Linked DNA regions of Homo sapiens. The protein of the gene in region 1 binds, or shares a complex with, the protein of each later gene. Each region holds a gene or a part of one and is shown in the gene's direction. Other genes may lie near its edges. The genes, in order: TAF11, TAF8 and TAF13.

Region 1 (4,084 bases):
CCGGGCAACGCACCCCCCAAACCGGCTGGGGACACCACCCCCTCCCTGCCTTTTCCCCACGAGCGCGTCACTTCCGGGATCCGGCGTCACGCGTCACCGCGCCCCCGCGCCCCGCCCCCTAGCTCACCTAGCTGGGCGGGGCTCCGCGGACCAGCGCAGGTGGACTTTGCTGTGCCGAGACACGCCTCTCGGGGCATGGGGACAGCGCCTTGTGGGCCCCCATTATGCAGGTGGAAAGGGACAAACAGGCCCACCTGTACGCGCCTCCCGAAGTGCGCTCCTTCCCCAAAGGTTTTGGGAGCTCCTGGGACAGGAAATACGGTAATTCGTCCAGGCAGCGTAGAAACAAAGAGATAAATGTAACGCGCACCTACATTTCCAAGTCCATTCTTTCAGCACGCATAAATTAAATATGTAATAGGTGCGGGGACCTAGTCATACCCAGGTGAATAAAACGCCCTCCCCCTCGTATCTCAATGAGGGAAGAGAAGAAAATTTTAAAACAGAAATATCCTCACCACTTCATCCTCCCAGTACGTGAACTAGTTCATTAAAGTGAAACGTTCAAAGGAGACACCTTCCTCTCTTTAGGCTTTCCTCTTAGTTTTAATGAGATTAACCAAACTGATAGAAAAGTGTCAGACTTGTAAAAACAAACCTCAATCTTCAGTACTGGCGAACTGAAAAAAATCATTTAATTGGGTAGAAACTATGTGTGTTTTGTTCCCTGGTACTAGCACTGTTTCTAAATCGAAGTAGGCAGTCAATAGTTGTGGATGAATAAATGAATTGGATAAATTCTGCTCGAGCTATATGACTTTTTGTTGTTAAGGTGCTTGCGGAATGGAGGGGAAATGCTAGCAATTCTATGTACACACAGGCCCGCGGTTTCGGGCCAGTTGAAATATACAAGGTTGAGTCCTTGCCTGAAAGTTTACCAGTCCCGGGGAGCCTCATTCCACGACACCGCCATACAACGGAACTGAGTTTTCTCCCAGTCCCCCAACTTTACTCTGAGGGGTTAACGAAGGGATTAACTGACATTGCATTTTTAGACAGGCGAAAAGGAAAAAGTTATTTAGTAAACAAAACTGCGCTCCTTCACAAGTGCTGGTTTCCTAGCGAGGAGGATCCATAGTCTGAGCTCTTTACGTCCAATTTTCCCGCTTCCCACTGTCGCCAAACCAAAGTTAAAATGAGTCCTCTAGTCCTCTACGCGCGCCTCAAAATGACCCCTCAGGAGAGCGGTAGGGGTGATGTCATCGCTGCGCGACGACAGGAAGTAAGATCCTGGCCTGTGCAGCTCGGGTTTCCGAGCTTCTGCCTCAGGCATCTCCGCGATCTCCTCTCCCCTCCAATCCTATCCGTGATGGACGATGCCCACGAGTCGCCCTCCGACAAAGGTGGAGAGACAGGGGAGTCGGATGAGACGGCCGCTGTGCCCGGGGACCCGGGGGCTACCGACACCGATGGAATCCCAGAGGAAACTGACGGAGACGCAGATGTGGACTTGAAAGAAGCTGCAGCGGAGGAAGGCGAGGTAGGAAGAGATGTACTGATGAGGCTGAAGGAATACCCAGAGATTGTGTTACTGGCTGCTCGCCGGGCTTCTGGTTAGTCCCTAACAAGTTACGAGAACTCGAACTCACCAGAATTCCCTCCAGATCGTTAATCTTGAGGGGGAAGAGAGGGGACGACCAAACAAAACTCCAGTGCTGGTTCGGTTCCAGAGGCTCAAGCACTGTTAATATTTTTAGTCTTGTCTTTAGGGATTAAAGCTACTTCTAAGGGAGTTATAATAGCCCGTTGGCTTTGGTGGTGAGGAAATTGGGATCCAATGTCACACTGAGACGTAGTGCAAGAGCTAAAACCCAGGATTCGTAGCACCCCTTTCACCGCAATATGGTTCCTCTTAGATGTTAAGACAACTTTTGTCTTTATAGGAAGGAGGGTCGATCAGACCTGTCAAAGGGAGATAGACTTTTATATCGAAAAGTCTATATCGATATAGACTTTTATATCGAACACGATTTAACCTGAGAGTCGCCCGGGCTGGAGAACAATGGCGCGATCTCTGGCCCACTGCAACCTGCGCCTCCTGGGTTCACGCGATTCTCCTGCTTCAGCCTCCCGAGTAGCTAGGATTACAGGCGCACACCACCATGCCCAGCTAATTTTTGTATTTTTAGTAGAGACGGGGTTTTACCATGTTGGCCAGGCTGGTCTGGAACTCCTGACCTCGTGATCCGCCCGCCTCGGCCTCCCAAAGTGCTAGGATTACAGGCGTGAGCCACCGCACCCGGTGATCAGGGACCCATCAATTGGGTCTGGTGTTTTTATGCTACAGAGAGTTCAGCAGTGTTGCCTAGCTGAGTATCGGTCAGGACCAGAAACTCATCGTTCTCAGGATTACATTTCTAGAAGTAGAATCTTGGGGTCTTACAGCTAGAAGGGATTTAAGAGATCGTGGGTGAACAGTAGATTAGATGGAAATAGCCTTTCAGAGCATAAAGTTGCATCAAAATGTATAAAGTACAAACTTTTAGAAAAAGAGAAAATTTGTCTGGGCGTAGTGGCTCACGCCTGTAATCCCAGCACTTTGGGAGGCCGAGGTGGGTGGATCGCCTGATGTCAGGAGTTTGAGACCAGCCTGGCCAACATGGCGAAACCCCGTCTCTACTAAAAATACAAAAATTAGCTGGGCATGGTGGCGGGCGCCTGTAATCCCGGCTACTTAGGAGGCTGAGGCACAAGAATCGCTTGAACCTGGGAGGCGGAGATTGCAGTGAGCCGAGATCGCACCACTGCACTCCAGCTTGGGTACCAGAGACTCCGTCTCGGAAAAAAAAAAAGAAAAGAAAAGAAAGAAAAAGGAAAAGAGAACATTTGACAAAAGTATTTTAAGGCAGGTTTTTTGTTTGTTTTTTGTTTTTTGTTTTTTGTTTTGAGACCGAGTCTCGCTCTGTTGCCCAGGCTGGAGTGTGCAGTGGCGTGATCTTGGCTCACTGCAAGCTCCTTTAAGGCAGTTTTTGTTTGTTGAGACAAGGTCTCACTCTGTCACCCAGCCTGGAGTGCAGTGGCACAGTCTCTGCCTCCTGGGCTCAAGCAATCCTCTTATCCCAGCCTCCCCAGTAACTGGGACTGCAGGCATGCTGCACCACGCTCATCTAAAGTTTTTGTTTTGTTTTGTTTCGTTTTTGAGACAGAGTCTCGCTCTGCCGCCCAGGCTGGAGTGCAATGGCGCAATCTCGGCTCACTGCAACCTCCGCCTCTCAGGCTCAAGCGATTCTCCTGCCTCAGCCTCCCCAGTAGCTGGGATTACAGACACGTGCCACCGCGCCCAGCTAATTTTTGTATTTTTAGTAGAGCTGAGGTTTCACAAGTTTCACAAGTTGCCCAGCCTGGTCTTGAACTCCTGACCTCATGATCCATCCGCCTCGGCCTCCCAAAGTGCTGGGATTATAGGCATGAGCCACCGCACCCGGCCAGCTAAAGGTTTTTTAAATATTGTTTTGGTAGAGACAAGGTCTTATTATGTTGCCCAGTCTGGTCTCCAACTCGTTGGGCTCAAGCAATCCTCCTGCCTCAGCTTCCCAAAGTGCTAAGATTACAGGTGGCAGCCACCATGCCTGGCCAAGAAGGAAACTTTAAAACAGGTGTCAAGGACAGCAAGGATTTGAATAATTAGCTTAGTACACAGAGGGCTCACTACATATCTAAATTTGCACCGAACAGAGGATAAAATTATGTTGTTTCTGAAACACTTTTAAAAATCGATCATGTACCAGACCACAAAGAAAAATATGAACTCTTAAAAGTAGAAATCATAACAGGCCACATCTTGTTAATGTAATGCATTAAACTTGAAATTAACTACAAAAAGCTTCTCCCCCACCAAAAAAGAACTAACCCCCTGGAAATTTTAAACTATTTTTTAAATAGCCTTTAGACTAAAGAAATTAATAGAACACTTTATCAAAGTATATGGGATTTGGCCAAAGCTTTATTTAAAGAAAAATATATAGCCTTACATATTTTTATTAACAGCCAGAAGATATTGCAAATAAGCACCTAACTCAAGAAA
Region 2 (3,724 bases), 7.2 Mb from region 1:
TTTTCTTGTTGGCATTTTTTTAAAAACTCCCTCTCAACATAGCAGTGGAAGGTGCCATTTTCAATCCCCTCTTGTTATGATTAAGCTCACACTTAATGTCCCCAGCTCATTGTTCCTTTTTGTTATCCAAGGTCTCTGAAAAGAGAACCAGCAGCCCATGTAACCTGCGTAGCTCCTCAGCATGCTGTTTTACGTAGTTACTGTGGCCACAGCCACCCACCTCTACCTAAGAGGCTTGTGGGCAGATTGTTGTCAAAGGGAACGTCAACCAAGATTAGCCAGCAGGGCTGGGCATTGTAAGCCATCAAAGACCTTTTATCGATTGAAATACAAAATGCAACTTGTTTAGAAAATTGAGGTCTGGCATTTTTTTGAGAAAAGGAGGCTTTGGGGAGAGACCATAATCTGTAGAAATCAGGGTCTTGGGTGGAGGGGTAATCAGTTGTGACTCTGTTGCAGCTCCGGTGACCAATCAGCCAGTGACCCCCAAGGCCCTCACTGCAGGGCAGAACCGACCCCACCCGCCGCACATCCCCAGCCATTTTCCTGAGTTCCCTGATCCCCACACCTACATCAAAACTCCGGTGAGTGATGAAGCACTGGGACTGCGCGTGGTGTAAAGCACGGAGTCAGTTCCTACTGACTGTCACGTGGCAGAGTCCAGTCCAAAAGCTTGTTGATGAAAGAGTGGTTCAAAACTCAGAATGTGGCCGGGCACATTGGCTCACACCTGTAATCCCAGCATTTTAGGAGGCCGAGGCAGGAGGATCACTTGAGCCTGGGAGTTCAAGACCAGCCTGGGCAGCAGAGCAAGACCCTGTCTCATTTGAAAAATAAATAAATAAAGAAAAAAAAAAGAATTCAGATTATCTTTCATAATTGAGAAACAATTTGGCAAATGAGAATTATGTTCTCAAGTTTGCCAGCTAAAGTATAATTAACAAAGAAATTGAAGCTGGCCCCAGTATTGCCTGTCCTACTAAAACACAAAAGTACATAGCCGCATAGGAACAAGACTGAAAAGGTATTCCACTAAATGTTCATAGTAATTTTGGGTTGAGATTATAGGTCATTTTGTTTTGTGTTTACTTTTCTGAGTTTTCCAAATTTTCCATAATAGGAAAATTATTTTTTCAATTGGGGGAAAAGTTACTTTAAAAATATTTAGTAATGGCCGGGAGCAGTGGCTCATACCTTTAATCCCAACACTTTGGAAGGCCGAGGCAGATGGATCACCTGAGGTCAGGAATTCAAGACCAGCCTGGCCAACACAGTGAAACCCCATCTCTACTAAAATTACAAAAATTAGCTGTGCGTGGTGGCACATACCTGTAGTTCCAGCTACTCAGGAGGCTGAGGCAGGAGAATCTAACCTGGGAGACAGAGGTTGCAGTGAGCTGAGATTGCGCCACTGCACTCCAGCCTAGGCGACAGAGCAAGACTCTGTCTCAAAAAGAAATAAATAAAAATTAGTAATGATAATGAAATGGAACTTATCACTCTGAGCTCTAGGTCTGAATGAGGAGAAGATGAATTATCCTCTGTGGTTTGAATGTGTTCTAATTTGCCTGAATGGCAGTTTTACCTTCCGTTGGGAAGGTGCCCTCCCACACTTCCTTTGCTTCTGCCTGCATACCATATAGTGATGGCAAGCCCTCACGTCCTCTGGGCATTTTTCCATACCTTAGGGTGGGGGAGAGGGAATAGTAGCTGCCCAGCTAATGCAACATAGCCCTTGCCCTTGCCCTTGGTCAGATCTCTCTATTAGTTTCCTGGGCTGCTGTAACAAAATGCCACAAACCAGGTGACTTAGAACAACAGAAATTTATTGTCTCACAGTTCTGGAGGCTAGAAGTCTAAAAGCAAGGTGTCATGCTCCCTCTGAAACCTGTAGGGGAGTCCCTCCTTGCCTCTTCCTAGCTTCTGGTGGTTGGCCAGCATTCTTTGGCATTTCTTGGCTCATAGATGCATCACTCCAGCTTTCTGTCTTCACATGGCATTCTTTTTTGTGTGTGGTTGGGGGGCAGAGGGGGAGACTGGAGTTTTATTATTACTCAAATCAGTCTTCCCCAGCATTCGGGGAGCAGAGTTTTTAAGGATAATGTGGTAGGTCGGGGGAAGCCAGTGAGCCAGGAGTGCTGATTGGTCAGAGATGAAACCATAGGGACTCAGGGCCGGGCAAGGTGGCTCACGCCTGTAATCCCAGCACTTTGGGAGGCCGAGGTGGGGGGATCATGAGGTCAGGAGATCGAGACCATCCTGGCCAACATGGTGAAACCCCGTCTTTACTAAAAATACAAAAAATCAGCCGGGCATGGTGGCGGGCACCTGTAGTCCTAGCTACTTGGGAGGCTGAGGCAGGAGAATAGTGTGAACCCGGGAGGCAGAGCTTGCAGTGAGCCGTGATTGCACCATTGCACTCCAGCCTGGGCGACAGAGCGAGACTTTGTCTCAAGAAAAAAAAAAAAAAAGAAATCATAGGGACTCAGAGCTGTCTTCTTGCACTGAGTCAGTTCCTGGGTGGGGGCCACAAGATCAGATGAGCCAGTTTATTGATCTGGGTGGTGCCAGCTGATCCATCAAGTGCAAGGTGTCTCAACACTGATCTTAGGAACAGTATAGGGAGGGTCAGAATCTTGTAGCCTCCAGCTGCATGACTTCTAAACCATAATTTCCAATCTTGTGGCTAATGTTAGTCCTACAAAGGCAATCTAGTCTCCAGGCAAGATGGAGGTCTTCTTTGGGAAAAGGAGTGTCACTGTCTTTGTTTAAACTCTAAACTAAGTTTCTCCCAAAGTTAGTTTAGCCTCCGCCCAGGAATGAACAAGGACAGCTTGGAGGTTAGAAGCAAGATGGAGTCAGTTAAGTTAGATCTCTTTCACCGTCTCAGTCATAATTTTGCAAACGTGGTTTCAGTCCTTCCCTTTGGGTTTTATAACACCTTAATCTTAAGGTGTAGGCTGTGAAGATGGGAAAAGGCTATCAATTGCTCTGGCTTCTTCCTGCTGACAGGGCACATTATGGGAATGGGAGTGAACCCGAAGGTGAGAAGAGTGGAACTGGTTTGCAACTGTCTGAGTGTACTCATGCAGGCCTGGCTAGGCGTTCATGGCTTGCATGGCACAAACATTAGTACTCTGTAGTTTTACTACAGTGTTTAAGTGAAACAGCCCACTATAAGGTAAATAACGAGTCCTAGGATGAGGAGTACAATTCCCAATTTTAAAAGCAAAGATTTGGAAGCACTAGTTTGGGGACTTCTAACCCACAAAGACTTTAGAATTTAGTCTAAACTGCAGAAAAAACCTCAAGAACAGCTAACAACAGTGTACTATAGTTTTTCTTTTGAAGCATAATTTTTCTCTCTCCAGTCCCCATTTTTATTAAAAACAAATCATGATACAACTGATTTGTTTACAAAATAAACTTTAGTCTTACTGTACTTGGCCCGATTATTTGCATAAAGTGCAGCAAGAATAATTATTTTTCACTTAGACTTTTTAAATTGGCTTTGATAGAACTCTGTTCCATGAAGAATCTCAGATAAGACTTTTTAAAAGCCGAGCCCAGCCATGGGTTTGTACCCTCAAATACCTATGAGTTGGGCAAATTTGTCTCCTCTTGAGGTCCCAAGATAGCTTGGGGTTCCTGAGCCTGTTTGAAAGTGACATTCTTTACTTACCACAGGTCAGGAACCTTGTACAGAGACTCTGTGTGGACGGGG
Region 3 (3,724 bases), on another chromosome or scaffold:
AGAAAAAAAAACTGTGCCTCTATTGAATATGTATAGACTTTTTTCCTTGTCACTATTCCCTAAACAGTATAGTATAACAACTATTTACATAGCATTTACATTGTATTAGGTATTGTAAGTAACCTAGAGATGATTTAAAATATACATAGGATGTATTTAGCTTATATGCAAATACTATGCCATTTTATATCTGGGATTTGAGCATCTGCAGATTTTGGTATCCACGGGAGGTCCTGGAACCAAGCTCCCAAGGATACTAAGGGACAACTGTATACATGTGCGCACACACACACACACACACTCACACACTTGTAATCACTACTAAGATCAAGATACAGAACACTTCCAGCATTTGACAGCATTTCTTACCATTTACATATACCCCTTTGATAATCTGATAAAAGTTATAATTATTCCCAGAAAAATGCCCATGTACAGATAATGTATAAAATTTTTCCGTATGATTTCAGGGTAGTCTCAAGGACTTCTTTTTTTATTTTTTGAGGCAGAGTCTCCCTCTTTCGCCCAGGTTGGAATGCATTGGCATGATCTCAGCTCTCCGCAACCTCTGCCTCCTGGGTTCAAGCTATTCTCCTGCCTCAGCCTCCCAAATAGCTGGGATTACAGGTGCGTGCCACCACGCCCCCCTAATTTTTGTATTTTTAGTAGAGACGGGGTTTCACCATGTTGGTCAGGCTGGTCTCAAACTCCCGACCTCAGGTGATCCGCCCACCTTGGCCTCCCAAAGTGCTGGAATTATAGGCGTGAACCACCGCGCTGGCCTTCAAGGACTTCTTAAAGCTTGTCTCTGGACTGGGAGTTTATAGGCGATAGGATAAGAACCTCTGTGGATCTCAGCTGGGTGTGGTGGCTCACACCTGTAATCCTAGCACTTTGGGAGGCCAAGGCAGGAGGATTACTTGAGTCCAGGAGTTCAAGACCAGCCTGGGCAACAAGGTGGGACCCTGTCTCTACGAAAAAATAAAAATAAATAAATAGTTAGAAACCAGTTCAAAAACTGCCTAGGCAACATAGCAAGACCCCTGTCTCTAGAAAAAATTTTAAATGGCTGGGTGTGGTAGCTTAGGCCTGTAATCCCAATAATTTGGGAGGCCAAGGCAGGCAGATCACTTGAGGCCAGGAATTCAAGACTATCTGGGCAACGTGGCAAAACCCTGACTCTACTAAAAAATACAAAAAAATTAGCTGGGTGTGGTAGCGCATGGCTGTAATCCCAGCTACTTGGAGGCTAAAGTTTGAGAATCTCTTGAATCCGGGAGGTGGAGGTTGCAGTGAGTTGAGATCGTGCCATTGCACTCCACCCTGGGTGACACAGTGACACTTCTGTTTCAAAAAAAACCCCACATATTAGCCAGGCATAGTGGCATGTGTCTGTAGTCTCAGCTGCTCACGTGAGCCAGGGAGGTTGAGGCTGCAGCAAGCTGTACTGCAACACCACTCCAGCCTGGGCGACAGAGCCAAGACTGTCTCAAAAAAGGAGAGCAAAAAAAAGAATTCACACGGATCCTGTCTGCCCTAAACTACAACTACCAACAAGTGCGATGCTGTTGTGGGTATGAGTAAAGACGCGAACCAGATCAGCTGGGTTCAAACTCAGGTTCCATCTCTTACTAGCTTTGTGACCTTGGGTAAATCAGTTACTGCAGTGCTTTAATTTTCTCATCTATAGAATGGGGATAATCAATAGTTTCTACCTTAAAGGATCATTGTGAGGATTAAATGAGTTATATATGTAAAGGACTTAAGACAGTACCTGGCATATAATAAGGGCTATATATGTTTTATCTTTTGGCAGTTATTTTTATTTGTCTGTATTAGACTTCTCTCTTATTATTTTTGAGACACAGTCTCTCTTATTATTATTATTATTTTTGAGACACAGCCTCCCTCTGTCACCCAGGCTGGAGTGCAGTGGCGCATTCTCAGCTCACTGCAACCTCTGCCTCCTGGATTCAAGCGATTCTCATGCCTCAGCCTCCCGAGTAGCTGGGATTATAGGCATGTGCCAACACCCCCAGCTGACTTTTGTGTTTTTTTTTTTTTTTTAGTAGAAACAGGTTTTCACCTTGTTGGCCAGGCTGATCTCAAACTTCTGGCCTCAAGTGATCTGCCTCAGCCTCCTGAAGTGCTGGGATTACAGGCGTGAGCCACCATCCAGGCCTACGCCCAGCTAATTTTTGTTTTTTATGTAGAGACAGGGTTTCGCCATGTTGCCCAGGCTTGTCTCAAACTCCTGAGCTCAAGCAGTCTACTTGCCTGGGCCTCCCAAAGTGCTGGGTTTACAGGCGTGGGCCACTGCACCCGACCTAGACTTATCCTTTGCATTTCCTATGGTTTCTTCAGATGAAGCCTGAAAGGGCTTTGCTGCAGTTGTATTGATCTAGGAAATGTCAAAATTCCTTGTAGTAAGCCCTCTGCTTTCTCATTTTGAGTACCCTGTTTCTTCCTATAAGAACAGATTTGGGGCTGGGCGCGGTGGCTCACGCCTGTAATCCCAGCACTTTGGGAGGCTGAGGCACGCAGATCACCAGGTCAGATCATCGAGACCATCCTGGCTAACACAGTGAAACCCCTTCTCTACTAAAAATACAAAAAATTAGCCGGGCGTGGTGGTGGGTGCCTGTAGTCCCAGCTACTCGGGAGGCTGAGGCAGGAGAATGGTGTGAACCCAGGAGGCGATGGAGCTTGCAGTGAGCCAAGATGGTGCCACTGCACTCCAGCTTGGGCGACAGAGCGAGACTCTGTCTCAAGAAAAACAAACAAACAAACAAACAAAAAAAGTATTTGGAGAACTGTCTCTCATGTCTTTTCCCCTATGGTAATATCAGTAAAGAGTCTGCCGTTTTTCCAACGCCCCACTGCCATGCCCACACACAAAAACCACCTCCAAAAAAGGCTAAGCTGTTGCTGTCTGTCCTGTCCTTTGCCAGAGTTTCCTACTTAAAGGTGTTCTGCTGGGGGCAGGGACTGGTAAGTAGATGCTAGAGATTAGGAAAAGACTGTTTACCTTAGGGTTCAGTAGGTGGGAGGAAGGAAGAGTTTTGCTGGAGGCTACGTGGGAACAGTTGGTCATCAGACTGTTCTTAAACCTTTTACACAAGAATCCATACTTGGAGATAACAAATACGATGTAAATATGTTTTCATACCAATATTATCTATAACTTGGTTCATTTCTACTTTATTTTTTTAAAGTATCAAATTGTTAAATCTGTAAAAGTAAACAAAAGTAAGTGATTGTTCTTTTACAGTGCGATGTATGATGTATGGCTTTGGGGATGACCAGAATCCTTATACTGAGTCAGTGGATATTCTTGAAGATCTTGTCATAGAGTTTATCACTGAAATGGTAAGATTCTTTCCTAACTGGTCTTAGTTAATTGAAGAATAGATTTGAAATATTAAACTTTAGGTAAGACTAGAACTTATGGCATCCCTTTGAAATAAGCTATCCATTTGAGTGCTTGTTTGCAGAAGTTATTGGTTACTATTTATCATTGAGGATGGAGGTTATACATGTATATTCTATCCCCCCTTCTTCCTTTTGTTTTTTTTTTTTTTTGAGATGGAGTTTCGTTCTTGTTGCCCAGACTGGAGTGCAATGGCACGATCTTGGCTCACTGCAACCTCCGTCTCCCGGATTCAAGGGATTCTCCTGCCTCAGCCTCCGAGGAGCTGGGATTACAGGCATGCATCACCACACC

Evidence for each region.
Region 2: TAF11 (region 1) and TAF8 share a complex: the UniProt entries of both Homo sapiens proteins name them as parts of the TFIID basal transcription factor complex.
Region 3: TAF11 (region 1) and TAF13 share a complex: the UniProt entries of both Homo sapiens proteins name them as parts of the TFIID basal transcription factor complex.

The regions. Positions count from the first base shown.
Region 1 is NC_000006.12:34,885,243-34,889,326, reverse strand, and holds the start of TAF11 (transcription initiation factor TFIID subunit 11), read left to right. Parts: upstream 1-1,284; 5' UTR 1,285-1,369; coding exon 1,370-1,540; intron 1,541-3,295; exon of another isoform or gene 3,296-4,084. UniProt on the Homo sapiens protein: The TFIID basal transcription factor complex plays a major role in the initiation of RNA polymerase II (Pol II)-dependent transcription.
Region 2 is NC_000006.12:42,056,930-42,060,653, forward strand, and holds part of TAF8 (transcription initiation factor TFIID subunit 8), read left to right. Parts: intron 1-459; coding exon 460-584; intron 585-3,724. UniProt on the Homo sapiens protein: The TFIID basal transcription factor complex plays a major role in the initiation of RNA polymerase II (Pol II)-dependent transcription.
Region 3 is NC_000001.11:109,065,780-109,069,503, reverse strand, and holds part of TAF13 (transcription initiation factor TFIID subunit 13), read left to right. Parts: intron 1-3,271; coding exon 3,272-3,369; intron 3,370-3,724. UniProt on the Homo sapiens protein: The TFIID basal transcription factor complex plays a major role in the initiation of RNA polymerase II (Pol II)-dependent transcription.